Regions from separate parts of the Homo sapiens genome. Here region 1 is linked to region 2. A link means that fine-mapping ties the variant in region 2 to the expression of a gene that starts in the linked region. Tissue or cell type: whole blood. Region 2 holds a variant in brackets; the other region holds the start of a gene. All regions are shown on one strand. Distances are from middle to middle.

The links. PIP is the estimated chance that this variant, and not a neighbour inherited with it, causes the effect.
Region 1: it holds the start of MYDGF, and the variant in region 2 is fine-mapped to the expression of MYDGF in whole blood (TOPMed, PIP above 0.99).

What each region holds. Positions count from the first base shown.
Region 1 is chr19:4,668,994-4,671,603 of GRCh38, reverse strand. It overlaps MYDGF (myeloid derived growth factor), which reads left to right and starts at 1,262. Exons shown (of 6, transcript NM_019107.4): 1 at 1,262-1,443. The coding sequence starts at 1,270. RefSeq lists a silencer at 873-1,262.
Region 2 is chr19:5,376,143-5,378,899 of GRCh38, reverse strand. No RefSeq gene overlaps it. Among named protein-coding and RNA genes, the nearest start is that of PTPRS, 37 kb to the right of the region's middle. The variant C/G (reference allele first, on the strand shown) is at 1,411.

The sequences.
Region 1 (2,610 bases), 710 kb after region 2:
TGATTTAATTCCTCAAAGGGTGAATTATAACCCATCTTAGGAGTCATCTATGACGTTTTCTCTCTGGATTCTGTTTTTTGCCAGTTGGGAAGGACTAGAAACACCAGCTTAATTATTGACCCCCCAGGCCTGGCCACTGGTGTTTTCTTGAAATGTTAAGCCATTTGTAACCAAAGAATGACTTCCTTCTCTAGTTGAAAACCTGGGATCTAATGATAGCAATAGCTACAATATATAATTCTCAGTTCATTCGTCCCGGTGTGGGAACTTAATTCCCTCACTTACTCCTCCCAACAACTCCTTGAGGTAGGGATTATTTTCTTTTTAACTTTTTATTTTGAAATAATTTTTGCCTCCCAGAAAATCTGCAGAAACTGTAGGGTTTCCTAATACGCTTCATCCAACTCCCCCTAATGTGAACATCGTCTGTAACCCCTAGGACAAGCCAGGTTATCAAAGCCAGGAAGTGAACACCCACATAATCCTATTAACAAATACACAGACTGATCGAGCGTGATGACTCACACCTGTAATCCCAGCACTTTGGAAGGCCGAGGCAGGCGGATCACTTGGGGTCAGGAGCTCAAGACCAGCCTGGCCAACATGGTGAAAACCTGTCTCTACTAAAAATACAAAAATTAGCCAGGGGTGGTGGTGAACACCTGTAGTCCCAGCTACTCGGGAGGCTGAGGCAGGTGCATCACTTGAACCTGGGAGGCGGAGAGTGCAGTGAGCCGAGATCGCGCCACTGCCCTCCAGCCTGGGCAACAAGAGGGAAACAAAAGCAAGCATCCTGCTTCTCATCCTACTTTCCCTCTGCTAATTTTGAATATCGATGCACACACATCTTGGCTGCAACGATTATGAGAAGTTCGCCTAATGGTGACCTTCGATTTCCCTCACTCCCTGTACATCTCCTAACTGAAAGAGCTGCAGTCAGTCACACGGCTGGTGAGGGACCCTGAGACCCCAAAACGAACTCCATTACCACCTGAGGGACCCTCCAAGGATCGCCGGGCTACGCAGGGTCCCTAGGGTACGAGGCCGCCCCCTCGGCGGCCCCGCCCCCTCGGCGGCCCCGCCCCCTCGGCAAAAGTCCCGCCCCCTCGACAAAGTCCCGCCCCCAAGATGGTGGCCCCGGGCGGTGGACAGGGCGGGGCGTGCCGGGTCACGTGGACAGCCGACGCCGACGTGGCCTCCGGCGGACGCTCCACGTGTCCCTCGCCGCGCCCCGTCTACCCGCCCCTGCCCTGAGGACCCTAGTCCAACATGGCGGCGCCCAGCGGAGGGTGGAACGGCGTCGGCGCGAGCTTGTGGGCCGCGCTGCTCCTAGGGGCCGTGGCGCTGAGGCCGGCGGAGGCGGTGTCCGAGCCCACGACGGTGGCGTTTGACGTGCGGCCCGGCGGCGTCGTGCATTCCTTCTCCCATAACGTGGGCCCGGGGGTACGTGCCACCGCCGTCCCGGATATTTGAGTGCTGGCAGGCCCGGGGAGGGGGCGCGGAGCATTGGGGGCGGGGCCCGAGGAGGGGGCGCGGACCGCGGAGGTGGGTACTGAAGAAGGGGTGCGGATTGTTAGGGTCGGAGGCTGAGTGGGGGGCGCGGGACCGTGAGGCCGGGGTCATCACTGGGGCAGGACTGAACTCATAGGGAGCGGGGCCTTGTGGGCCCCGGCGGCGTTGAGGGGGCGTGATCACCTGTCACCTGTCGCCTGCCTGGAGTGTCCAGGCACCCCTGCCCTCCAGACGCAGAGGTGGGGAGGGGTCAGTGATGGGAGCGGCAGGAGGCTAAAGGGCATCTGCCCTCCTGGGCCTGAAGGAAATCAGTCGCTGCAGCTCCGAAGAGGGAGGAAGTGCTCCTTCCTTCCATTGCACAAGGTCCCCCCTCACCGAGGGTGTGAGGCCGGGCCCTCAGCCCTGTACTCAGCTTGTCGGCAAAGTCCTTTCCCCTCTCAGCCTCCCTTTCCCCGCCTGTAATAACAGTATCTTTACTGTTTTTTGACTATTTCTTTTTAGACTTGCGTGCAGTGGCGGGATCTCGGCTCACTGCATCCTTAGCCTTCTGGGTTCAAGCAATTCTTCTGCCTCAGCCTCCCCAGTACCTGGGATTACAGACGTGTGCCACCACACCCGGATAATTGTTGTTGTTGTTGTTTGAGATGGAGCCTCACTCTGTCGCCCAGGCTGGAGTGCAGTGGCGCGATCTTGGCTCACTGCAACCTCTGCCTCCCAGGTTCATGCCATTCTCCTGCCGCAGCCTCCCAAGTAGCTGGGACTACTAATCTTTGTATTTTTAGTACAGATGGGATTTCACCATGTTAGCCAGGCTGGTCTTGAACTCCTGACCGCAGGTGACCCGCCCACCTCGGCCTCCCAAAGTGATGGGATTACAGGCGTGAGCCACTGTGCCAGGCCAGTTTGTTGACTACTTCCTTATAGTTAGGTGTGATGCCAAGTCCTTTATATGTTAGGCCCAAGTTACAGATGAGAAAATGCTTCACATAAAAAAGAGAAACAGAGAGAAACTAGAGGCTCAGAAAAGTTTTCACTTGTCCAGGTCCCATGGCAAAACCCATCTCTACAAAAATACGAAAAATTAGCCAGGTGTGGTAG
Region 2 (2,757 bases):
GCAGGGACATAGATGGAGCTGGAAGCCATCATCCTCAGCAAACTAACACCGGAACAGAAAACCAAACACTGCATGTTCTCACTTATAAGTGGAAGCTGAAAAATGAGAACACATGGACACAGGGAGGGGAGCAACACACCCTGAGGCCTGTTGGGGGAATCGGGGGAGGGAGAGCATCAGGATAAATAGTTAATGCATGCAGGGCTTAATACCTAGATGATGGGTTGATAGGTGCAGCAAACCACCATGGCACACATTTACCTATGTAACAAACCTGCACATATATCCTGGAACTTAAAATAAAATTTAAAAAATACCTGGGCCACGCACAGTGGTTCACGCCTATAATCCCAGCACTTTGGGAGGCCGAGGCGGGTGGATCACCTGAGGTCAGGAGTTAGAGACCAGTCTGGCCAACATGATGAAACCCCATCACTACTAAAAATACAAAAAATTACCTGGGAGTGGTGATGGGCTCCTGTAACCCCAGCTACTCGGGAGGCTGAGGCAGGAGAATCGCTTGAACCCAGGAGCTGGAGGTTGCAGTGAGCTGAGATGGCACCACCGCACTCCAGCCTGGGCAACAAGAGCAAAACTCCGTCTCAAAAATAATAATAATAATAATAATAATAATAAATTAAAAAGAAATCTGAAGAGATCAAGTTCTGTGCTTTTGCCACCCAATAGTCCCCACGCCTGGGACAGCTTAGAGGAATTCCCACAGATATCATAGGAGCAGTTTGGCTAAGTGCATCTTTTTTGCTGAGCACTTGTTTTAAAAAAAGATCAATAAAAATAGTATCAGTAAACAAACTCCTAATCTTTGTCCCTGGAAGAGATGGCAGAGCACAGCTGAGCCAGAGGGGAGGTGGCACCAAGGGCACAAGTTCTGGCTCTGCATCCAGTTCATCGGGCGACCTGCGGGTGACACTGGACATCTCTGGGCCTCTGAGGGCACTCCTAGCTAAGAGTTTTGCAGCTGCAGTGACTCTGGGGATTCATGAGCTTGTGGTGCTGGTGGTGCTGGGGACATGCCACTGCCCTGCAGGTGAGCCACTCATGGTGGAGGGAGGTGAGGTGGAATGTGTATAACCTCATCCTCTTCCTCCTTCTGTGGTCTCCACCAGGTCCAGCCCCCATCACTGCCCACCTGGACTCGTGCAGTTGCCTCAGTCCTGATTCCCCGGCTCCTACCCTTACCTGCCGCAGTCTGTCCTCCCCATTGCAGCCACCAGAGGGTGCCTGTGAGCACCTGAGTCAGGGCCTGTCCCTCCTCTGCCCGCAGCCCCCCATGGTTCCCACCTTCCTCAGGGTCAAAGCCCAAGTCCCTTTTTTTTTTTTTTTGACATGGAGTCTCGCTCTGTCACCCAGGCTGGAGTGCAGTGGTACAGTCTCGGCTCACTGCAACCT[C/G]CGCCTCCTGGGTTCAAGCGATTCTCCTGCCTCAGCCTCAGGAGTAGCTGGGACTATAGGTGCCTGCCACCACACCTGGCTCATTTTTGTATTTTTAGTAGAGACAGAGTTTCACCATGTTGGTCAGGCTGATCTTGAACTCCTGATCTCAAGAGATCCACCCACCTTGGCCTCCCAAGGTACTAGAATTACAGGCGTGAACCACCGTGCCCGGCCCCAAGTCCTTTTTGCAACCCACAAGGCCCTGCATGACCTGTCCTCCTGCCCCTTCCCTGCCCTCCCCTTCTCCCTCTCTCCCCTTCCTCACTCTGCTCCAGCCACACAGGCCTCTTCACTGTTCCTCCAATGCCCCAGGCACTGTCCTGCCTCAGGGCCTTTGCACAGACTGTTCCCTCTACTTGGAACACCCTTCCTCCACATGTTCTCACAGCTGGCTCCTTCTGATCATTCAGGTCTCATCTCAAATGTCACCTCCTCAGACAGGCCCTCCCGGACCACCCCAGCTAAAACTGCATCCCTCCAACCTATCACTTTTTTCCACCTCACCCAGTTTCACTTCTGTTCATCAGTTATCACTGTCTGAAATGATCATTTTTGGCGGGGTGCAGTGGCTCATGCCTGTAATCCCAGTACTTTGGGAGGCCAAGGTGGGCGAATCACTTGAGATCAGGAGTTCAAGACCAGCCTGGCCAATGTGGTGAAACCCCATCTCTACTAAAAACACAAAAATTAGCTGGGCGTAGTTGTGCACGCCTGTAGTCCCAGCTACTCAGGAGGCTGAGGCAGGAGAATCGCTTGAACCTGGAAGGTGGAGGTTGCAGTGAACCAAGACTGCGCCACTGCCCTCTAGCCTGGGCGACAGAGTGAGATTCCATCTCAACAACAACAACAACAATGAAATGATCGATTTATTTTGCTTACTTGCAAATTCTGTCTCTCTCCAGCTTCCATGAGTTCCAGAAGTACAGGAAATATTGTCTCTCTTGATCTCTGCTGAGTCTTCAGTGTCTAGAACGGGGCCATGCACACAACGGTTGTTGAGTGAATAAATGAACAAATGAGGACAGAGAGAGTAGGAGTGCAGACATGGGCATCAAAGAACTGGTGATTCTGCCCAGGTGCAGTGACTCTTGCCTGACATCCCAACATTTTGGGAGGCCGAGGTGGGAGGATTGCTTGGGCCCAGGAGTTCGAGATCAGCCTGGGCAACATAGTAAGACCTTGTCCCTATAAAAAATTAGCCAGGCCCGAGCTGGGCGTGGTGGCTCACGCCTGTAATCCCAGCACTTTGGGAGGCCGAGGCAGGCATATCACGAGGTCAGGAGATTGAGACCATCCTGGCTAACA